Linked DNA regions of Homo sapiens: regions 1 and 3 are each linked to region 2. Evidence: fine-mapped expression QTL. A gene starts in region 2. Each other region holds a variant in brackets. All regions are shown on one strand. Distances are from middle to middle.

Region 1 (8,000 bases), 42 kb before region 2:
CCTCCATAAACTTTCTAAAAATCATGGGTAAACTCTACCATACACCTCAATAAAGTTGTGTAAAAATGACCAGGTATTTGATTATATTAAGAAATGTTATTTAAATTTTCAGGTACAATGTTGGTAATAATTTTTTATCTTCTAGGCCAGGCCTGGTGGCTCATGCTTGTAATCCCAGCACTCTGGGGGGCCAAGGTGGGGGGATGACTTGAGGTCAGGAGTTGGAGACCAGCCTGGCCAACATGGTGAAACCCCGTCTCTACTAAAAATACAAAAATTAGCCAGGCGTGGTGGCGCGCGCCTGTGATCTCAGCTGCTCAGGAGGCTGAGGCATGAGAATCACTTGAACCTGGGAGGCAGAGGTTGCAATGAGCTGAGATCGCGCCACTGCACTCCATCCTGGGCGACAGAATTGAGACTCCATCTCAAAAAAAAAAAAGAAAAAAAATTCATCTTTTAGAGGTACTTGTTGAAAAGTTAAATTATATATCTTGGATTTGCTTCAAAATGATCTAGTCTGGGAAGTGAGAAAAAACTAAGTTTACATTTATGGGTACATGGGGGTACACTGTACTCTTCCCTCTACTTATAATATAAAGTTTAAAACAATTTTAAAAAGTTGTAAAAGAATATTTAATAAAATTAGGAAGTTAGTCATGATTTCTGTGTAAAGCAGATTAGGATGTTTTCAGTGTGGTTCAAATTATATAAAAATACATATATATGGACATTTTTAAACATTATTAGAGAAATGCTGATTGTCCAGTATTAGCCAAAAAGTTAAAGTTAATTTCTAGGCGTTGGGATCATGCAAGGTATGTTACTATTCTTATGTTTTCCACATTTCTCACAATGGTCATCTATCACTTTCATACTTCAACAATTTACAGTATATCATTCATGTTGAAAGCCATTTAAGACACGAAATTTATCTTTATTCCATCCAGGATTTGTACTGGGCACTCTCAAGAAACAGTTAAGATACAACTTGACATGAAACTGCTCAACCTGGTAAGTGTCTACTCAGTGTCTGACTCAGTTCTTGTTCATTTTTTGGGGACTTTTTTTTTAAAAGAACCAGAAAAAAGGTAAAAATTCTCATTTCACTTCTGTTTGTCACCTTCTCATTCATTTCTGGAGGTCGAACTAAAAGTAACCACTTCCAAGTTACTAATGATTCAGACACAATCTAGTTCTATGGAACTTGTTGGAAAGGAAGTTCTGTGTCTAAAGCTGTCACAGGATACTACTTCTCAGCTTTCATTTTCTTCCTTCAATATCAAATAGTACTTAACTCTAAATGGGCATGATGTTTCTACAAATAGTAGAATCTTTATTTATAAAGAGGTAAATTTCTGTGGCAATAATACAAACATGGATTTCACATACATACACCACCATCACCAGCTTACATATATTAACTTTTTTTTGAGACGGAGTCTCGCTCTGTTGCCAGGCTGGAGTGCAGTGGCGCGATCTCAGCTCACTGCAACCTCTGCCTCCTGGGTTCAAGTGATTCTCCTGCCTCAGCCTTCTGAGAGTAGCTAGGACTACAGGCACACCCCGCCATGCCCAGCTAATTTTTGTATTTTTAGTAGAGACAGGGTTTCACCATGTTGGCCAGGATGGTCTCGAACTCTTGGCCTTGTGATCTGCCCGCCTTGGCCTCCGAAAGTGCTGGGATTACAGACGTGAACCACCGTGCCCAGACATATTAACTTTTTTTTTCTATTGTGTGGTTTCTTTTATAAATTTTGGGTTTTTTTTCCCTTTTAGGGCAGCACCCTAATTCAAGGCTAATGGAATAAGGTACATTTTAATGTAGATTCAATTCAAGGCACATTTAACCTAGTAAAACCGGCAGAGGAGATCTGGTGCTGTTTGTTTTGATATTCACAGCCATTGATACTCCCACTTCAGCTGAAGGACTAAAGAGGAAACCTGTTCTTAGACTGAGAACTGTAACAAAAGTGCGAACTTTCCCTTCAGGGAGTCCTCCCCATCAGCTGAATGACCTTTCTTTTCCAGGTACTTCCCACTAGCTGTCACCACGGAAGTCACCACCTGCCCCCCTTTCCCTTGCAAGGGTTACTAACAGTGATCCCATCTGGTCACCACAAAGTCAGTAGGAAACTCAGGCTGAAGACACACTGAAAACCTAGCACCACACAAGAGCTCATCGCAGCAACCTTAGTTTTACTTCCTTCTGGAAAAAGATGAACAGCACTTTCTTCTCCTTTCACTGACATTCAGTTGAAAAGGATCCCAGGTACACTCTATGACTGGAGGTAGTGGCGCTTATTGAAACTGGAACCTTCATAGTGATTAGTACGTTTGCTCAAACCTGTAAGACTGAAGTGTGATAAGTGTCTTGGCTTGAGTACTAACCGGAAGGAAAACATCTACCTGTTACAAATGTAGGAGCCTGCTGCACCTGCAGCTGTTGCCTGAATGTTTTGGGTGCTATTCACAGCTCAGCGCAGCATCCATCAGGTGAATGGGTACAACTGCAGAAGTGGCTCCAGGAACCAGGAACCGCCCTGCATCTTACCTGCACCCTCGCCTGTCACTCAGGAGTCTCTCCATGACTTTGCAACTGCCTTATGGGGCTGATCTGGTATTAGATATCTGATATCAATGGATATCAGATCTCGGGTAGGGCTGATCCCTTTTGAAATTAAGGACACCTTAGGAAGATTAAGGGAAACAGTCAGGAGATGAAAGTGGTGGCCAGGAAATAAAATGTTCGCCTGAGTGGATTTCAATTCAGTCAGTAAGTACTTGCTTCACGGTCTCCCTTCCACACCCTGTTCTTTGCCTTCTTAGCACTTATCACAGCTCATAATCAGAGTGTGTTTAATCTGTCTCCTCCCACACTGGAAGCTCCAGGAACACAGGGACTGTGTCTGCCTTGCTCACCACCGAGTCTCCAGCACCAAAAACAGTGCCTGAACATAGCGGGCAGTCAAGAAAAGCTTGTCTGTTCATTCAACAAATGCCTATCGATGCCAATGACTGCCAAGGACTGCGTTAAGGTACTTACTCTCAGAGGTTGACAGTCCTTGGTGGAGACAAACAATAAACAAGTAAATGGACAAACAAATGTTTATTATTACTTGTTGGGGAGACAGCTTCCACTCGACAAACAATGACTGAGTTCTTAAGTCCTTACACACAATGGTATGTACAGCATTAAGCATCAGTGACCAAAACACAAAAATCCCTCTCCTCAAGCAGATGACATCCAGCTCCTTCCCATTTCTGGCTCTGTCTGGGCTCCTCCTGTTCCCTCCAACAAGGACCCTCTCCCCAGATCTTCCCCACGGCTGGCTCCTTTCTATTTGGGTCTCAGCTGAAATATCACCTTCTCCGGGAGGCTTCCTCGACAATCCCTTCACACTCACCTCCCGCCCGAATCACCTTCACATCACCCCGTTTCTTCTTTATGGCAAACCTTTTCTGGTTGACCTATTTATTTGGTTAATGCGCCCCCCTAACCCCCGTAAAGTTCCAAAAGGACTCCAAGAGGCCTTTGTGGGATTTGTTCTCCCGCTGAGCTCGGTGCCCGGAGCTGATGAAGACCACACGGGCGATCCTAACTAACTGGGGCAGAGCAGCCGCCGACCACACAGACGGCCGGCGACCCTGGAGTCAGCCCCGCGCTCCGGGAAGCTTTGGCCGCTGAGCTGGGGTGTCATCTTCCCCGTCTGGACAATGGGGACGGGGCGCGCCCTTCCTCGGTGCTCCCCGCGGGAGGGCCCCAGCGATGCGCGGGAT[T/G]GGGGGCGCCAGGAGAGCAGGTGCGGCCCGCGTCTCCCGGGCGACACTCACGTCTCGGAACTGGACCAGGCCTTTCTCGCCCAGGGCGCTGAGGCACTCGTAGGCCGTGCCCGACTGCAGGAAGAGCTGCGCCAGGCACATGGTCTCGCTCCGGAACAGGGACCCCATGGCGGGCCGACCCGCGCCCGGAGGGGCTCGATGGGCGGCGGCGGCTCCGAGCCGCGCGGGCCCGCACACTCAGCCGGTGCGGCCCGGGCCTCGAGCTCTTCCTGTGGCCTGGCCGCGGCCCCGCACTATGGGGCTCCAGACTGCAGCGGCCGCCCCCGGTTCTGCCACCGCGGCCGCCGCTCCAGCTGCCGCCACAGCAGTCCGCGAGGTCCCGCCCCCAAGCCACTGCCGGTTCCGGTTCCGCCCCCGCGTCCCGCCCCCCCCGCCGGCCGACCAATGGACGCCCGAGGTTGTCGCCGCACGACGTGGCGGCAGGGCCAACCAGCGCGAACCCGGCGGGTACGACCACTGCAGCTGGCGCTCCGCCGGACTGGACGCAGAGCTAAATCCCGCGCGGCTCCCCGGCTTTCCTGGAGGAGTCTCGCCGAGTGTGCACGCCGCGAAGCTCACCCGTTCCTAGTGCACGACCCTGTGCTGCTGCGTGTGTGTGTGTGTGTGTGTGTGAGAGAGAGAGAGAGAGAAACGGAATCTCACGCAGTCCCACAGGCTGGAGTGCAGTAGCGCGATCTCGGCTCACTGCAACCTCCGTCTCCCAGGTTCAAGCGATTCTCCAGCCTCAGACTCCCCAGTTGCTGTGACTACAGACGCGCGCCACCCGCGTCCAGCTAATTTTTTTGTATTTTTAATAGAGACGGGGTTTCACCATGTTGGCCAGGCTGGTCTCAAAACTCCAGAGCTCAGGTGATCCGCCTGCCTCGGCCTCCGCAGTGCTGGGATTACAGGCGTGAACCACTGCGCCCGGCCCTGCTGCTGGTTTTTTATGGATAGGGTTTCCCTCTGTGGCCCAGGGAGGAGTGCAGTAGCACGAGCTCGGCTCGCTGCAACCTTGACCTCCTGAGCTCAAGCGATCCTCCCACCTCAGCCTCTGGAGGAGCTGGGATTACAGACGCGCGCCATCACACCCGGCTAATTTGTTTTTAAAATGTTTATAGAGAAGGGGTTTCATCATGTTGGCCAGGCTGGTCTCGAACTCCTGAACTCAAGCAATCCTCCCGCCTTGGCCTCCCAAAGCGCTAGGATTACAGGCGTGATCCGCCGCCCGGAGGGATCCTAGGCTTCTTCGTGAAGTTGGAGTGTGCAGCCAGCATCCCAATCCAGTTTTCAAACATTTCCCACCGACCTCGCAAGACTCCTCCTGCTCAGTTGCAGTCTCCCCTTCCCGCCCGGCCTGGCCACCACAGGACAATTTTGTCTCGCTAAATTTGCCACCTCCAGGCTTGTCCTGTCGATGGAATCACACAGCACCCAGTGTGTGTTCCCCACACTGACCGGGAAGCAGTGGCCCCCCGCCCCAGGCCGCAACCTCACCGCTGTCCCAGTCGAGTCTCTGCTTACATATCCCCTTCCTTGAGACTGTCCCTGGAGTCACATCCTTGTTCTATTTCCTTCACTGCACCTGCCACCATCTGAAATTATCTTGTCTGTGTGTTAGTGCCAGTCTTCCCTGCTAGAATGGAAGCTCCACCAAGGTGGGGACATTGTTTCTGCCACTGTGGTATCTCCAAGCCCCAGCACATAGTAGCCACTCAATAAATAGTTCATGAATGCATACATAAATGTATAAACTTAAAAAAGTTAAAACCATAGACACTCCAGACCCCATTCTGCCAAACTGAGTTTTTTCCTTCTTTTAAGTACAAAAGGCGTCCTCACAAAGCCCACAAAATCAAGCTAAATTACCTGTCATTTGGAAGTTTTAAATTTATTTTCCATAAATACCTGAAATCCAAAGCTAGTTACACTAGGCTGGGTGCCCTGGCTCACTCCTGTAATCCCTGCACTTTGGGAGGCTGAGGCAGGTGGATCACTTGAGGTCAGGAGTTTGAGACCAGCCTGGCCAACATGGCAAAACCCCGTCTCTACTAAAAAAATATAAAAATTAGCTAGGCGTGGTGGTGGGCACCTGTAGTCCCAGCTACTCGGGAGGCTGAGGCAAGAGAATCGCTTGAACCTGGGAGGTGGAGCTTGCAGTGAGCTGAAATGGCATCCCTGGACTCTAGCCTGGGCAACAGAGTGACACTCTGTTTCAAAAGAAACAACAACAACAAAAAGATACAGTAAGAACTGTGAAGGTGAATTCAAAGGCTGAAGTTCAGACAATAATTGACTCAGACCCCAGCTCCGTCAGTCCAGTACTGACCCAGATTCCTGAGTCAGCCCTAGAGGGGTCGGGTGAAGGCCCAACACCACCACAGTACAGATGCTGAAATTCACGGTATTTCCATCATGCAGAAACTTAGGACCTCTGCAGTGACTAGCTCATCCCCCTATTTGAAAGTGGACTCAGGCCGGGCGCAGTGGCTCATGCCTGTAATCCCAGCACTTTGGGAGGCCGAGGCGGGTGGATCACGAGGTCAGGAGATCGAGACCATCCTGGCTAACACAGTGAAACTCCGTCTCTACTAAAAATACGAAAAATTAGCTGGGCATGGTGGTGGGTGCCTGTAGTCCCAGCTACTCAGGAGGCTGAGGCAGGAGAATGGCGTGAACTCGGGAGGCGGAGCTTGCAGTGAGCAAAGATCACGCCACTGCTCTCCAGCCTGGGCAATAGAGCAAGACTCCGTCTCAAAAAAAAAAAGAAAAAAGAAAATGGACTTAAGACTGGAGGAAAATTTGAAATTGCCCCTGGGCAGGAACTCTGCAGCGAAGATGAAACAGCACATTTTATGTGGTGCTGGGTATCAGCAGGCACTAGGAATTCGATCAAAAAGTATAAAAGGGAAAATAATTATTTTTCAAAATTAGGCTTAAATAACATAGAAAATCCATCTGAAACAACTAAGTTACCTGGCACACAAAGAAAACTTACAGGTGATGTGCCATGTGGCCACTGTAGGACCGTGGCTAAAAACATCTATTCCAGGGCTGGGCACAGCAGCTCATACCTATAATCCCAGCACTTTGGGAGGCTAAGGCAGGTAGATCACTTGAGCCTAAGAGTTCGAGACCAGCCTGGGTAACATAGGGAGACCCCCTTCTCTACAAAAAAAAAAAATACAAAAACTAGCCAGGTACAAGCCTGTGGTCCCAGCTACTTGGGAGGCTAAGGTGGGAGGATCACTTGAGCTCAGGAGGTCGAGGCTGCAGTGAGCCGTAATTGTGCCACTGCTCTCCAGCTCTCCAGCCTGGGTAACAGAGTAAGACCGAGTCTCAAAAAAAAAAAAAAAAAAAAAATCCATTCTCCCCACTGAGTGGGGTTGACTGTTCCCATGTGACGGCCCATGGGAGAAATTTGTCAAGACTCAGCTAGGAAAAACTGTCCTTCATTGATAACCAGTTAATTTTTAATGAATAGATTTCATAATTCCTGTATTAATGAATAGATTTCATAATTCCTATAGCTAATCATACTTGGGTTTTTGTAAACTGGGGTCTTGGTTGGGCATAGTGGCTCCTGCTGGTAATCCCAGCACTTTGGGAGGCTTAGGTGGTAGGATCGCTAAAGCCAGGAGTTTGAGACCAGGCTGGGCAACATAGCGAGACCCCCATCTACTAAAAAAAAAAAAAAAAAAAAAAAAAAAAAAAATAGCCAGGCGTGGTAGCTGTGTGCCACCTGTAGTCCCAGCTACTTGGGGGAGAATCGCTTGATCCCAGGTGTCTGAGTTTACAGTGAGCTATAATCGTGCCACTGCACTCCAGCCTGGGCAACAGAGGGAGAACCTGTCTCCAAAAAACAAATAAATAAATAATGAATTAGGGGCCTGCTTCTGCTAAAGGCAACCTCTGGCATGTATTTTAGGGCTTACATGTGCCCCTGGTTTTGTTTTACTTTTCTCTTATTATTTTCCTCCCGCAGCCCCCATATCTTTCCCCATCAGTGATTTTGTGTTTTTGTATTACATGCATTTTTAAGGATTTCTTAATCCTTTCTACGGAATATGGGAAACATCAATCAACACGAATGTATTAAAAACTAAAGAAAAGACTGATTCTCTCTGGTATAAATAAAACTCCTATGACTTTAACTAATTTGTGATAAGCTAAAATTTCTAACA
Region 2 (8,268 bases):
GGAGGCCGAGGCAGGCGGATCACAAGGTCAGGAGATCAAGACCATCCCAGCCAACATGGTGAAACCCCATCTCTACTAAAAGTACAAAATTAGCTGGGCGTGGTAGCGTGAGCCTGTAGTCCCAGCTACTCGGGAGGCTGAGGCAGGAGAATCGCTTAAGCCCAGGAAGTGGAGGTTGCAGTGAGCCGAGATCACAACACTGCACTCCAGCCTGGTGACAGACTTAGACTCCATCTCAAAAAAAAAAGAGAGAGAATCAATGTACATAAACAAATTTCACCTTCTCCCAAAAAGGATTCAAGGTAGCTTATAAAGATGCAAACAGTAGAGAAAGATCAAATAAATGTTAAATAAAATAGTACAAAATGAAATTTCTTAAAAGAAAACTAAACAAAAGAAAAATAAGTTTAGAAAAGCAAGACAGACTCAAGTGAAGTATACTTTACAAATTGCATGGCATACACTTATAATCAAACAGGTAAGCTTGACACAAATTTTTCTTTTTTTGTTTTTGTTTTTGGTTTTTTTTGAGACAGGGTCCCACTCTGTCACCCTGGCTGGAACGCAGTGGCGCGATCACAGCTCATTTGTAGCATTAACCTCCCGGGCAGCTCATTTATAGCATCAACCTCCCGGGCTCAAGCAATCCTCCTACCTCTTCCTCCTAAGTAGCTGGGAACAACATGAAAGTTTTGACAGTCAAAGACTTCACTTGCCTGAGGCATTATGGGTCAGAGAAGAGTTGGCATAAATTTCCACTTGAATGAGTAGATGTGCTGAACAGGATGAATTATGAGATGCTGAAACCAGAAGGGTCTGGAGGATACAGGGGGACTCTGAGAAGGAATCTGTCTCATTGGAGGAACACCAGTCCAGACCTCTCTTCCACCTCACTGTCACTTCCAACACCTTCTGAAAGGAAAACATTGCTGTATTTTTAAAGTGACTCAAAACAGGGTCTATAAGAATACATAATGGAAAACACAATAAAAGTACACATCAGCCTCCGTTCATTTTATAAAAGGGAAATGTATACAGAGATGACACAGTTATCTTCAGTTCCCCCCCATAAACCTATGGTAACATGCAAGCCCTGATTCTTCTTCCTTAACATAAAAGCAAACAACTTCGGGATACTTAGAGAAAGCTAAACACAGATCTGATAAATAAACTCAGTTTATTGTACACCTTTTTAGTTTCTTTATCATCCTATCAGTGGAAGAGTAAATACACAAAAAAAGTCAATGAAAACAATCCTCAGTTTATCCCAGAATGACTTTAGACATGTACATGTTCACTCCTGGGGTACAAGCAGAGCTTGTCTTTCCTGTCCTTTTCTCTCCAGAATTGATGTTGCATATACTAGGTATCCAATAAACACTTATTAAATAGAAGATGCTTAATCTCTCCAGGTTTGAGTATCCTTACACATAAGCTCAGAGTTGGGCAAGATCAGTGGTTATGAAGCTTTTTTTTTTGAGACGGAGTCTCGCTCATCACCCAAGCTGGAGTGCAGTGGCGTGATCTCGGCTCACTGCAATCTCTGCCTCCCGGGTTCAAGTGATTCTCCTGCCTCAGCCTCCAAAGTAGCTGAGATTACAGGCACCCGCCATCACGCCCAGCTAATTTTTGTATTTTTAGTAGAGATGGGTTTCACCATGTTGGCCAGACTGGTCTTGAACTCCTGACCTCAGATGATCCGCCCTCCTCGGCCTCCCAAAGTGCTAGGATTACAGGCGTGAGCCACCGCGCCTGACCAGCTTTTTCTTTTTTTTTAAGAGACAGGGTCTTGCTCTGTTGCCCAGGCTGGATGAAGTGCAGTGGTGCGATCATAGCTCTCTGCAGCCCTGAACTCCTGGGCTCAAATAATCCTCTTGCCTCAGCTACCCCACCCCCCTCCAAGTATCTGGGACTGTAGGTGTACGCCACCCACCTAATTTTTTTTTTAATTGTTTTGTAGAGACGAGGTCTCGCTATGTTACAGGCTGGTCTGGAACTCCTGGGCTCAAGCAATCCTCCCGCCTCAATCTCCCAAAGCGCTATGAGTACAGGCGTGAGCCACGATGCCTGGCATAAAGCTTTTTTGAATCACTGACCCATTTGATGATCTAAAGGAAACTGGTGACCCTCTCATCAGAAAAATGCACATACACACAGAACTTTACATACAATTTCATAGAGTTCACAGACCCACTGAAATACATCCAAGGACTCCTAACCCCAGGGTAAGGAACCCGTGGGCTGGATAAGTGTCTACCAGATCCAACAGCCCACAATTTCATGATTGTTGAGAGCATGGAGAAAGCCATGCCTTGTTAAATAAAGAGAGCACTGCAGAAACCCTAGCTGGGGGCCTCTTCACAGGCTACAGAGAAGGTTTACTTCTGGCCTTACCGCACCGGGGATCACAGTCACGCTCCAGTCTTCCGTCTCATTGTTCAGCACTCCACACGTCGGAATTGGCAATATTCCTAAAGAAAGAAGACCAGCATGCAAAGGCAGCAAGGTCCAGCAGCTCAGGGGGTGCATTGAGTCAGACTGCCTAGGATGGACTCACATTACAGCCTAAGATTGGGCCCTTTACAAGCTGCTTGACACTGGGACAGTGACAACCTCTCTGAACTTGTTTCTTCCTTGGTCAAAGGGGATGAAAAGATATTACTGTTCTTACTAGGAAAATGGGATGATGCACGATGTTAGCTCAATGAATGCTAACCATTATTATTTCAGGCTTTCTTCGAACCTGTCCGTCTGTCCTCTTTGGCCTACAGCAGCCGCCCGATCCTTTTCTCCCCATGCGACTTTGCAGAGAACAGAGGCAGGGGGCCCCAAGGATGCCACCTCTCCAGGCTCCTTGGGAGGTCTGGATCCAGTCCAACCCCCACCCTCCCCAAAAGAGGGCCGGACTTTACCCGCCTCGTCCTGCAGCACTGCCAGGGACACGGTCACACCCTCGGTGTCTCCGACCAGGGACGCGCTGACCGCAGGGCCGGACATTCGGATAAAAGGAGGGATGAAAGCTAGGCGGGAAGGAAAGGGGACAAGGAGGGGTTAGCAGTGGAAGAATCACCGCCTAAGGTGTGTGTGGCGGCTTGCTTTGGCGTTGTCGACTCCCGAAGCTCCCGGGGGAGTCCAAGTCTGGCCCTTTTAACGCCCAGTCCCCTCAGCCCCGGCCCACCGAGGTCACTGCCGCGCCGTACACACCCAGGTCCCCCCACAGAAGCCTCAGGATGCCCTGCAGAAGGAAAAGCCTCAAAAGAAGAGCGGCCGGAGGCTGGAAGCCCATGCCTTAGACCTCGCGGGCCGGGCACAGCAGAACCGCGCCCTCATTAGAACCCAGGAAGGACTCAGACACGAAAACGCAGCAGCCACTGCCCCGCCGCCGCCATCTTGCAAGCGAACGCCCGGAGCTATGGCAACCACCAATCGGCGGCCGGCCAGGAGGAACGCCGCGCTGTGATTGGACCAGTGGCAAGAGCGGGCACCCCGGCCCCGCCCACAAGGCCTAGCATTTTTGCTGCTTGACTCTGGTGGGGAGAGTGAGGGCTGAAAAACTACCTATCCGGTGCTCCACTTAGTACCTGGGTGACGAAACAATCTGTGCACCCAACCCCCGTGACACGCAATTTACCTATATAGCAACCTGTACATGGACCCCTGGGCCTAAAAGTTGAAAACATCAAAATTAAAAAGGTCCTGAAAAGCAGGAGTGCGTGTCCGGCTCAAAAACTGGAGTTTTCCCCTACCCTGGAATTAATCCAACAATAGCCAAGAGCGATCCTATAGACACTGGCTTCTAAATAAAAAGGGTGGGACTTGCTCCTTAATAAACTTGATTTTTATACGGATTTGTTTTAGGGGTGAGTAGAAAAAGGGGATGGGGCTGCCGCGCTGTGTTTATTATCTTTACTATCGTTTATGATGTATTATTTATATTTTATATTTTTATAAAATAAATATATATTTACAAAATAGATATACTTTGTTTTATATATATATATCAGATATACATACTTGATATATATAAAATACATATAGGCCGGGTCTGGCGGCTCATGCCTGTAATCCCAGCAATTTGGGAGGCCGAGGCGGGCGGATCACAATGTCAGGAGTCTGAGACCAGCCTGATCAACATGGTGAAACCCCGTCTCTACTAAAAATACAAAAAATTAGCCAGGCGTGGTGGCAGGCGCCTATTATCCCAGCTACTCAGGAGGCTGAGGCAGGAGAATTGTATGAATCTGGGAGGCGGAGGTTGCAGTGAGCCGCGATTGCACCACTGCACTCAAACCTGGGCGACAGAGCCAGACTCCGTCTCAAAAATATATTTATTTATTTATTTATCTTATAAAATATATATGTATTTATATTTTATCTTATATATATTTATCTTTTATATAAGTATATATTTTGTAAATTTTATACTTATATGTTATAATTTTATAAAATTTATATTTTTATAATTCTTATCATTATCATTTATTATCACTATTGCTTTTATTATCATTCTCCTAGGTTTTTGAAGGATTTTCTCCCCTGCACAGAGCTCTCAGCACTCTGAAAGCAGATCCAATCACAGAACACACAAGAGGTTTTGCCCAGCAATAGGACAGATGTGAAAGAATCAAAATTCTGTCTGGAAAAAAATTGTTTTTTCTTATATCAGTAGCCTCAGAACATTTCAAATATTGTCACGGCTTGGGGACTGAGAGTGCAGGGTCTGAGGTCAGGCTGCCTGGCATGGGATTTCGCCTTCCCTCCACAGATATTCTCAGCTGTTAAGTGACTTTGGGCAAGTCAACCTCTCTAAGTTTCAGCTTCCTCATCTATAAAAAAGGGATGATAATAATCCTTCCTTGGGGATTGTGTGAGGATGAAATGAGGTAACATATCTAATGAGGTTAAACCAATGGCTGGCATACAGTAAGCACTCAGTTAATGATCAGTTACTTGTTAACTATCAGAGAGGTGGTGTATCCTTTAGCTGAGACAATCATGGTGTTCAGCATTGTGGCTGACTGACGGTAAATGCCAAGTAAATGTTTGCCATTATTAGTCTTTTTTTTTTTTCTTTTTGAGACAGGGTCTCACTCTGTCACCCAGGCTGGAATGGTGCAGTGGCACAATCATAGCTCACTGCATCCTCAAACTTCTGGGCTCAGCTGATCCTCCCACCTCAGCCTCCCAAGTAACTGGCAATACACCACCACACCCGGCTAATTTTTGTATTTTTTATAGAGACGGGGTTTCACCATGTGGCCCAGGCTGGTCTCAAACTCCTGGGCTCAAGTGATCCTCCTGCCTTGGCCTCTAAAAGTGCTGGGATTACAGGTATGGGCCACCGTACCCAGCCCCATTATTACTCTTAATGTTCAGTTATATATTCATTGATCAGCAAATCTAACATTGTGAAAGGATTCTGAAAGTTGAGGCTTTATAAGGGCCTGACACTGGGTGTTATCTTTTTCTTATACTCCCTGAAAAACTGTGGGTCACTACAGTTGTAACATGAGCATGAAACTTTTCCCGTGTACCTCAGCTCCTCTCTGGAAGACTGCAAAATGTTTACCTCTCTTGATATCTTGGAATGAAGCCTAGGAGAACGTTACTAAGAGGAAGCTGTCAAACACTTAAATATTTCTGTTATTCCCCATCTGTCTTTGGGGGGAATTAATCTGCAAATTAAGTTGGCAAGGCCAAGCGGTAAAGATTAAGAGATAAATCCTCCCAAAAGAAAACATTTCTGGGCCGGGCTTGGTGGCTTATGCCTGTAATCCCTGCACTTTGGGTGGCAAAGGCACATGGATCACTTGAGGCCAGGAGTTCAAGACCAACCTGGGCAACACAGAGAAACCCATCTCTACCCAAAAATACAAAAATTATCTGGGCGTGGTGGCGCATGCCCGTACTCCCAGCTACTCGGGAGGCTGAGGCAGGAGAATCGCTTGAACCCAGGGGTCGGATGTTGCAGTGAGCCGAGATCGCGCTACTGCACTCCAGCCTGGGCAACAGAGTGAGACTTCATCTCAAAAAAAAAGATAGAAAACACTTGAAGCTGGTGATCAGCAGCTTCCCGATAAGATCTCAGGAGTTGGGCAAGCAGGCTCATGCATACATAGTAAGAGGCAAGATGGCAGATTTTAACTGGTATATAACCTTCCTCTGGGAAGGCTCGACTGGTAAAGGAAAATGCCTCAAATGAGCATGCGCACAACTTCAGTAAACACACTGCACATGCGGCCCCTCCCAAGTGCTGGCAGGCCACTGACATGCAGACAGCCCACCCCAAGGAAAAATCAAGGGAGGGCACAAACCTCAGAACCATGCTAATGTATAGAAACCCCCAGTGAAGGGTCGGACGGGGCACTTGAATCTCTCAAGTCGCCCGCTTGGCCCTCTTCCAAGTGTACTTTACTTCCTTTCATTCCTGCTCTAAAACTTTTTAATAAACGTTTACCCCTGCTTTAAACTTTGCCTTGGTCTCTCACTCTGCCTTATGCTGCTTGGCCAAATTCTTTCCTCTGAGGAGGCAAGAATCGAGTTGCTGCAGACCTGTACAGACTCGTCACTGCTAACGGTGATCCAGGGAATTCTCCAAGATCGTACCCAAGATCACCAAGGTGGCACCTCTACAAATATGTAAACTATTCATATCTTGAGTAGTAGACTAAAAGGCAAACCTATCAAAAATAATAACTACAGCTTTTTAAGACATAGTATAATAAGATATAAATATTGTAGAAACAAAAAGTTAAAAATCAGAGGGATGAAGTTAGAGTATTAGTTTTCTCTGCTTGTTTTTGCAATCAGAGTTGTCATCAGTTTAAAATAATGGGTTATAAGATGGTATTTGCAAGCCTCATGCTAAACTCATATCAAAAAGCCTACAACAGATACACAAAAATATAAAGCAAGAAATTAAAACATACCACCAGAGAAAATCACTTTCATAAAAAGGAAGATGGAAGGAAGGGAGGAAGGGAAGATCAGAAAACAAATTTAAAAATGGCAGTAGTAAGTCCTTACTTATAAATAATAACATTGAATGTAAATGGACTAAACTCTCCAATCAAAAGACATAGAGTGGCTGAATAGATTTAAAAAAAAAAGACCTAATGATTAGCTGCCTATAAAAACTCTTCACCTATAAAGACACACATAGACTAAAAATAAAGGGATGGAAAAAGATATTCTAATGGAAACCAAAAAAGAGCAAAAGTAGCTATATACTTATATCAGATAAAATAGATTTTAAGACTAGGTGTGATGGCTCATGCCTGTAATCCCAACACTTTGGGAGGCCGAGGCAAGAGGAACCCAGGAGTTGCTTGAGCCCAGGAGTTCAAGACCAGCCTGGACAATACAGCAAGATGCTATCTCCACAGAAAAAGAAAAAAAAGAGGCCAGGCGCAGTGGCTCACACCTGCAATCCGAGCACTTCGGGAGGCCAAGGTGAGTGGATCATCTGAGGTCAGGAGTTCAAGACAAGCCTAGCCAACATGGCGAAAACCCATCTCTATTAAAAATACAAATATTAGGCTGGGCTCGGTGGCTCATGCCTGTAATCCCAGCACTTTGGGAGGCCGAGGTGGGAGGATCACGAGGTCAGGAAACTGAGACCATCCTGGCTAACATGGTGAAACCTCATCTTTACTAAAAATACAAAAAAATTAGCTGGGCATGGTGGCAGGTGCCTGTAGTCCCAGCTACTTGGGAGGCTGAGGCAGGAGAATGGCGTGAACCCGGGAGGCAGAGCTTGCAGTGAGCTGAGAACACACCACTGCACTCCAGCCTGGGCGACAGAGCGAGACTCTGCCTAAAAAAAAAAAAAAAAAAAAATTAGCTGGTCGTGGTGGCAGGTGCCTGTAATTGCAGCTACTCGGGAGACTGAGGTGGGAGAATCACTTGAACCCGGGAGGTGGAGGTTGCAATGAGCTGAGATCATGCCACTGCACTCCATCCTGGGTGACAGAGTGAGACTCTGTCTCAAAAAAAAAAAAAAAAAGTGGTAAAGAAGGTCATTATATAATAAGAGGCTCAGCAAGAGAATATAACTATTGTAAACATATATGCAGCCAATACTGAAGCATTCAGATATATAAAGCAAATATTATTAGGGCTAAAGAAAGAGATAGACCCCAGTACAATAACAGTTGGAGACTTCAACCTCCCACTTTCAGCATTGGACAGATTATCCAGACAGAAAATCAACAAGGAAACATCAGACCTAATTTGCACTATAGACCAAATGGACCTAATAGATATTTA
Region 3 (8,223 bases), 22 kb before region 2:
ACCCGATTGCCAAAGATGTAAAGTCGTGACATTATTCATCCTGTTGATATTTAGAGCTCGGACAGGCTTGCCAAGTTGGTAACCTAGACAAACACAACAAAGGAACGTGAGCCTGTTTCCTCCAGCATAGCAAGCCCTAACTCTGCAAATAATACAAGAGTCATGCACAAGGAAAGAAAACACATAGGCGAAGCTTTCGAAAATACCCTTGAGAGAAAGATGGCAACTTCGGGTCTCAAAAAAAACAGTAGCTAAAGAGAAAGAATGCTTCACATTTACAGCAACTTGTTACTATGTACAACAGACTATGTAAAAAAAAAAAATACATTGTTATCACAAAAAGAATACCATGTCGGCCAGGCGTAGTGGCTCACGCCTGTAATCCTAGCACTTTGGGAGGCCGAGGTGGGTGGATCACCTGAGGTCAGGAGTTCGAGACCAGTATGGCCAATATGGCAAAACCTCATCTCTACTAAAAGTACAAAAATTTGCTGAGGGTGTTGGTGGGCACCTGTAATCCCAGCTACTTGGGAGGCTGAGGCAGGAGAATTGCTTGAACCTGGAAGGTGGAGGTTGCAGTGAGCCCAAATCGTGCCATTGCACTCCAGCCTGGGTGACAAGAGTTAAACTCCGTCTCAAAAAAAAAAAAAATGAATACAGTGCCACAACAGAGAATAAAGAGGCTGGGGCAGTGGCTCATGCCTGTAATCACAACACTTTGGGAGGCTAAGGCCAGGGGATCACTTGAGGTCAGGAATTCAAGACCAGCCTGGCCAACACGGTGAACAACAGCCTATCTCTACTAAAAATATAAAAATTATATTAAAGTGAGCAACCCTGCAAGCCTCTCTTTGGAGAAGTAGCAGATGAATAAAACTTCCTGTGTTGTGTGATTAAAAAAAAAAAAAAAAAGCCAGGCATGGTGGTGTGCACCTGTAATCCCAGCTACTCAGGAGGCTGAGGCAAGAAAATCTCTTGAACCCAGGAGGTGCAGGTTGCAGTGAGCCGAGATTGCGCCACTGCACTCCAGACTAGGCAACAGAGCAAGACTCCGTCTCAAAAAAAGAAAAAGAGAAAATAAAGAAAAAGGTCAGAGTCAGAAACTAAATTGGAGAGAGTTACTTATAACCATCCTGATGGCTGGGAGTGTTGAACTAAAGTATGTTTGTAAGATCAATGACTGGCATATACTCATCTTACCTGGATTTCCAGATAATTCTTCTTCATTACCACTATTATAGCTTAAAAATTTTACTACAAATCTCTGTGTCATTATCCCTAGAAATAAAACAAAATAAAATATAATGTGCACCATTTCACTAGGAAAAGAAATTATTCTCCATAGTGTTTACCTTAAAATTGCATTTTGTCATACAAAGTGTACTCTCGTTAATTAAATCATAAATGCACATAAGAAACAAGTCCAACTTAGTTTTATGGGTTATAATTATGAGAATCTTGAAAAGAGGAAAAAAAAATACTTTTCAGTGAAAGCATGCTTGCTACCCTCATCAAAGTTACCTTTCTGGTGGGCATTAATCTCTGCCCTAAAAATTTTAACATTTATTTCACTGATGGTATTATTATTCCATTTGAAAATATAATGTTCTTCCACATTCACAATTCTAGGGGTTGATCCGTTATTTAAAGGAGTTTCTGCAAATACAAGAATATGTTCATAAATTAAAGACCCTCTTTGAGCCTGACTCTGTTACTGGGAGGTTCTCTCTGCTTGCGTGGCCTTCCCCAAGTGCCCTGCCCCTGCCCTCCCTATCTCCAGCTCCCTAACATGGCACGGTCACTGCTTCCTTGAGGAAGCCTGCCCTGGTCCCACCAAGTCAGCATTAGCTGCCTCCTCTATGCCATCACAGTACCCAGAATGAGATCTGTTCCTTTCATTTCTATATCTCCAGCACCTGGCTCATAGCTTGCCATGGAGCATGCACTTGGTAAAATGTTTGTGAGATGAAAGACCAGAGGGTCAGTTCCGCCAGGGCAGGGGCCCGCTATCTAGTTCCCTACTACGGCGTAGGAACTCCACTAACATTTGATGAGCCAATGAATAAATTTGAGAAGTACAACACATCAGAAAGAGACACCCAGCACTTGGGGAGGCCGAGGTGGGCAGATCACCTGAGGTCAAGAGTTCGAGACCAGCCTGGCCAGCATGGCGAAACCCTGTCTCTACTAAAAATACAAAAATTAGGCCGGGTGCGGTGGCTCACGCCTGTAATCCCAGCACTTTGGGAGGCTGAGGCAGGCAGATCACGAGGTCAGGAGTTCAAGACCAGCCTGGCCAACACAGTGAAACCCCCTCTCTACTAACAATACAAAAAATCAGCCAGGCATGGGGGCAGGCACCTGTAATCCCAGCTACTCGGGAGGCTGAGGCAGAAGAATCGTTTGAACCCAGGAGGCAGAGGTTGCAGTGAGTGGAGACTGTGTCACTACACTCCAGTCTGGGTGACAGTGAGACTGTCTCAAAAAAAAAAAAATACAAAAAAATACAAAAATTAGCCGGGATTGGTGGCAGGTGCCTGTAATCCCAGCTACTCAGGAGGCTAAGGCATGAGAATTGCTTGAACCTGGGAGGTGGAGGGTACAGTGAGCTGAGATCACCCTATTGCACTCCAGCCTGGGCGACAGAGCAAGACTCTGTCTCCAATTAAAAAAAAAAAAGAAAAGAAAGAAACAAACAGTATCCTTCATTAAAAACTAAAGTTCTGGTAAAATTAGCCAAACTGAGCCAGTCGCCGTGGCTCACGCCTGTAACCCCTGCACTTTGGGAGGCCAAGGCAGGTGGATCACCTGAGGTCAGGAGTTCGAAACCAGCCTGGCCAACATGGTGAAACCCCGTCTCTACTAAAATACAAAAATTAGCCAGGCATATGGTGGTGAACACCTGTAATCCCAGCTACTTGGGAGACTGAGGCAGGAGAACTGCTTGAACCCAGGAAGTGGAGGTTATAGTGAGCCAAGATTACACCACTGCACTCCAGCCTGGGTGACAGAGCAAGAATCCATCTCAAAAAAAAAAAAAAAA[T/AT]CTGCCAAACTCTACGTAACTTATTTGGCTGCATCACAATTGGAAAGTTTAATTATCAAAAAAAAAAAAAAAAAAAAAGGAAAGAAAGCAAAAAGTGAAAATGCTGTGCCCTAAAAAGTTCTTTTAACTGGTCGGGCGCGGTGGCTCACACCTATAATCCCAGCACTTTGGGAGGCCAAGGCAAGTGGATCACCTGAGGTCGGGAGTTCGAGACCAGCCTGACCAACAGGGAGAAACCCCGTCTCTACTAAAAATACAAAATTAGCTGGGTGTGGTGGCGGGTGACTATAATCCCAGCTACTCAGGGGGCTGAGGCAGGAGAATCACTTGAACTCAGGAGGCGGAGGTTGCAGTGAGCCGAGATCATGCCATTGCACTCCAGCCTGGGTGACAAGAACAAAACTCCGCCTCAAAAAAAAAAAAAAAAAAAAAAAAAGAATTATTTAACTATCAAACATTTAAGGAAAGGTTCACGGAAGCTGGAACTAGAAGGGTCGGTGGAACTCAGAGAATCCAGGACTGTGGAGGAGCAGGCTCAAGGTCACAGAGAGCACTCTAAAGCCCAGCAGGACAGAACGAGGAACAAATGAAATGTTCCTGGCAGATCTTTCTAACTATTGTGAACCTTTTTAAATGACTAACAAAAATATACACTCTGAGGGTATATATTACTTGTAAGAAATGACATATCTGTTTCTGAAGAAATGACGTCAAAGTGTAACATTAAATACCTGTATTGGTGATGAATTTGTCTAGGTCAGTTGCTTCCTCATAGATCACTTTTGGTGTAACTATGCCTAAAGAGATAACATAAATTAACTTCCACAGGCGTACACATGGCCTACCATGATCACACTTACTCAAAGTATAGCTTACAAAGCAAATATGGTGACCGCAACTGCCCAGGGTGCTGACTACAAAACCCTCCCCACTCCCCAAAAACCATCAGATAGGAGTCCCCATCCTCTTAGCATCTAATTATAACGGAGGAAGAAAATCCACAACAAACACACAAACAAACAAAAACCAGGGTCACTGTGACATAAAAACAAATATGCAGTTCACTGCTGGTGGCAATACAAAATGGTGCAGACACTGTAGAAAACAATTGGCCAGGCGCAGGGGCTCACGCCTATAATCCCAGCACTTTGGGAGGCCGAGGCAGGCAGATTGCCTGAGGTCAGTTTGAGACCAGTCTGGCCAACATGGTGAAACCTCCTCTCTACTAAAAATACAAAAAAATTAGCCGGGCGTGGTGGCTCATGCCCGTAATCCCAGCACTCTGGGAGGCCGAGGTGGGTGGATCACCTGAGGTCAGGAGTTCGAGATCTGCCTGGCCAACATGGTGAAATCCCATCTCTACTAAACTTCGTCTCTACTAAAAATACAAAAATTAGCAGGGCGTGGTGGTGGGTGCCTGTAATCCCAGCTACTCGGGAGGCTGAGGCAGGAGAATCGCTTGAACCCAGGAGGTGGAGGTTGCCGTGAGCCGAGATCGCGCCATCGCACTCCAGCCTGGCGGACAAGAGCAAGACTTGGTCTCAAAAAAAAAAAAATTAGCCAGGTGTGGTGGCACATGCCTGTAATCTCAGCTACTTGGGAGGCTGAGGCAGGGGAATCGCTTGAACCAGGGAGGTGGAGGTTGCAGCGAGCCGAGATCACGTCACTGCACTCCAGCCTGGGTGACAGAGCAAGACTCCCTCTCAAAAAAAAAACCAAAAAAACAAAAAAAAAACAATTTGGTGGGTCCTCAAGAAGTCATATTAGCATGACCTGTCAGTTCCACTCCTAGGTGTCTACCCAAAAGAAATAAAAACACACATCTACGCAAAAACTTGGACACGAGTGTTCATGGCAGCACTATTCACAACAGTCAGAGATGAAAACAACCCACATGTCCATCAACTGAGGAATGGACAAACACAATGTGCTCTGTCCATGCAATGGACTATGATTCAGCCATAAAAAGGAATGAAGTGCTGCCACACACTACAAACACGGATGAACCATGGAACACCATGCTCAGTGAAAGAAGCCAGACACAAAAGGCCACATAGTGTATGATTCTGTTTCTAGGGAACACCCAGAATAAGCAATCCACGGAGACAGAAAGCAGATTGGTGGCTGCCAGGAGCTGAGGGAAGAGGGGTAGGGAGTGACTGCTAATGGGTACAGATGCCCTTCTGAGGCGATGAAACGTTCTGGAACTAGAGAGAGGTGATGGTGGCACAACAGTGTGGAAGGTACTAATGTCAATGAATTGTACACTTTAAAAGGGTTAATTCTGGTGGGACGCGATGGCTTACACCTGTAATCCCAGCACTTTGGGAGGCCTAGGAGAGTGGATCACCTGAGGTCAGGAGTTCAAGGTCAACCTGGCCAACACAGTGAAACCCCATCTTTACCAAAAACACAAAAATTAGCCAGTCATGGTGGCAGGCACCTGTAGTCCCAGCTACTCGGGAAGCTGAGGCAGGAGAATCGCTTGAACTTAGGAGGCAGAGGGTACAGTGAGCCGAGATCACGCCACTGCACTCCAACCTGCGTGACGGAGAAACAAACAAAAAGGCTAAATTTATGTTATTTGAATTTTACTTCAATTTCAAAATAATTAATATGCAATATGCTGTCTTACGGAACTAAACTTTTTCCAAAGAAAATAATTGGCAGTTCAAATATTATTTGAAGTTGAACCAGTAGAAATGATTTATACTCTCATGAGATCATACTTTATATTCATGTTTGGGCCTGTGTTCTTTTTTCAAAGAAATGTAACATACCTCCTAAGGCAACATTCTTTATCTTCGCATTGATAATACCATCTCGTTCTTGGTATAGTTCCAAATTAGTAACGCATTTAACATCAAAATTGTGAAGAAATGCCACTGGGGCGTTCTGCATACACTGCCCAGCCAGGGACACCTGAGGGAGAAGGGCAAAGCCAACAGATTTATGGCCTCTCTCCTAATCATACAAAACAGATCAGCATCCCTTAAAACTGGTCTTTCTGCAGCCTGCTCCCATTGCTGGTCTGGTTTCAGCAACGGCAAGTTCACCGACTAGTTGACCCGCTTTAGCAAAACATCTAACTGATTTGCCCATCAAGGTCTGGAAGCCACTGGTTGTGGAGTCACAGTAAATATTGTCTAATAAAAACAAAGAAAATCCCTTGTCCTGTTCTATTTAGTTTGCAGAGACATGACTATATTTAACTTCATGTTCTCTCCCTCATCACAACCAGAGTTTAATACCATAAAAATGGATTCATATGAATAGGAAAGAGAAATTTTCACCTCCCATGCTTTCTTCCCACAAATAACACTCCTCATAATGTTGAACTTAAAAAAAGATTTCAGGTTGGGAGCAGTGGCTCACACCTGTAATCCCATCATTTTGGAAGGCTGTAGTGGGAGAATCATTTGAGCCCAGGAGTTCAAGACCAACCTGGGCAACATAGCAAGACCCTGTCTCTACAAAAAGTAAAAAATTAACCGGGTATAATGGCATGCACCTATAGTCCCAGCTACTTGGGAGGCTGAGGTGGGAGGATTGCTTGAGCCCATGAGATGGAGGCTGCAGTGAGCTGTGACTACACTCACTACACTCCAGCCTGGGCGACAGAGCAAGACCCTGTCATTCATTCACTTGTGCATTCATATATAGATATACAAATGATTCCATATACAACCTTACAGCCTTAAAATATTTTTCAAAATTCTAGAATGGTAAATAAAATGATGTATTTATCTAACCATTGTTTTTTATACCGGACCCTACTTGAGGGTAGTGAGTAGGAGGAGGGAGAGGATCAGAAAAAAACTATTGGGTACTTGGCTTAGTACCTGGGTGACAAATAATCTGTACAACAAAACCCCATGACACAAGTTTACCTATATAACAAACCTGCTCATGTAGCCCTGAACCTAAAATAAAAATATAAAAAGAAAAAGAAGCAAAGAATGATAGTTACTGCTAGCCAGGCATCAAGGCTCACACTGTAATCCCAACACTTTGGCCAAGGCAGAAGAATTTCGAGGCCAGGAGTTTAAGACCCGCCTGGGCAACATAGTGAAACCCCCATCTCTACAGAAAAATTTTTGGCTGGGCGCGGTGGCTCAAGCCTGTAATCCCAGCACATTGGGAGGCCAAAGTGGGCAGGTCACTTCAGCCCAGAAGTTAAAAAGACCAGCCTGGGCAACATGGCAAAACCCCACCTCTACAAAAAATTAGCCAGGAATGGTGGCATGTGCCTGTAGTCTCAGCTACTTGGGAAGCTGAGGTAGGAGGATCACTTGAATGTGGGAGGTCAGGGCTGCAGGGAGTTGAGATCACGCCAGTGCACTCCACCCTAGGTGACAGAGCAAGACTATGTCTCAAACCAAAACAAATTTTTTTAATTTAAAAAAAAAAAAGACTCATGCCTGTAATCCCAGCACTTTGGGAGGCTGAGGCAGGCAGATCACCTGAGGTCAGGAATTCGAGACCAGCCTGACCAACATGGAGAAACCCCGTCTCTACTAAAAATACAAAATTAGCTGGGCGTGGTGGTGCATGCCTGTAATCCCAGCTACTTGGGAAAGCTGAGGCAGGAGAATCGCTTGAACCCGGGAGGCAGAGGTTGCGGTGAGCTGAGATTGTGCCATTACACTCCAGCCTGGGCAAAAACAGCGAAACTCTGTCTCAAAAAAAAAGAAAAAGAATGATAGGTACTTCCATGGAAACTTATAGAAAATCTTTTGGTTTTATTTTGTAAGTTCACTCTGAGTTTTAAGCAAAGACAGTGATTAAGAGTGACTATATATTTTATTAATTTGGAGAACATAAACAGTTAAGTCCCTGAAAGGTAGAAAGGAGGAAAGTAAGTAACTTAAAAAGAGATTTTAAAGAGAAATATGACTTAAATTAACAATAGGACAGGAAAAATAAAAGAAGGGTCTAGTGGCCAGGCATGGTGGCTCATGCCTGTAATCCCAGCACTTTGGGAGGCTGAGGCACTAGGATCACAGGGTCAAGAGATCGAGATCATCCAGGTCAACATGGTGAAACCCCGTCTGTACTAAAAATACAAAAAATTGGCTGGGTGCGGTGGCACACACCTGTAGTCCCAGCTACTGGGGAGGCTGAGGCAGGAGAATCACTTGAACCCGGGAGGCAGAGGTTGCAGTGAGCCGAGATCTGGC

What was found. PIP is the estimated chance that this variant, and not a neighbour inherited with it, causes the effect.
Region 1: its variant is fine-mapped to the expression of TCTN2 in lung (TOPMed, PIP above 0.99). The same link has a PIP of 0.9 or more in fibroblasts, left ventricle and minor salivary gland.
Region 3: its variant is fine-mapped to the expression of TCTN2 in lymphoblastoid cells (GEUVADIS, PIP 0.95).

The regions. Positions count from the first base shown.
Region 1 is chr12:123,708,511-123,716,510 of GRCh38, reverse strand. It overlaps ATP6V0A2 (ATPase H+ transporting V0 subunit a2), which reads right to left and starts at 4,158. Exons shown (of 20, transcript NM_012463.4): 1 at 3,829-4,158. The coding sequence starts at 3,945. LOC105370042 (a long non-coding RNA gene) reads left to right here. Exons shown (of 3, transcript XR_945477.4): 2 at 948-1,011; 3 at 1,777-3,745. RefSeq lists a silencer at 3,784-4,333. The variant T/G (reference allele first, on the strand shown) is at 3,778.
Region 2 is chr12:123,666,259-123,674,526 of GRCh38, reverse strand. It overlaps TCTN2 (tectonic family member 2), which reads right to left and starts at 3,414. Exons shown (of 18, transcript NM_024809.5): 1 at 3,205-3,414; 2 at 2,913-3,020; 3 at 2,395-2,471; 4 at 717-912. The coding sequence starts at 3,286.
Region 3 is chr12:123,688,275-123,696,497 of GRCh38, reverse strand. It overlaps TCTN2 (tectonic family member 2), which reads right to left. Exons shown (of 18, transcript NM_024809.5): 8 at 5,824-5,965; 9 at 3,775-3,840; 10 at 1,522-1,656; 11 at 1,201-1,278; 12 at 3-83. Among named protein-coding and RNA genes, the nearest start is that of ATP6V0A2, 20 kb to the left of the region's middle. The variant T/AT (reference allele first, on the strand shown) is at 3,044.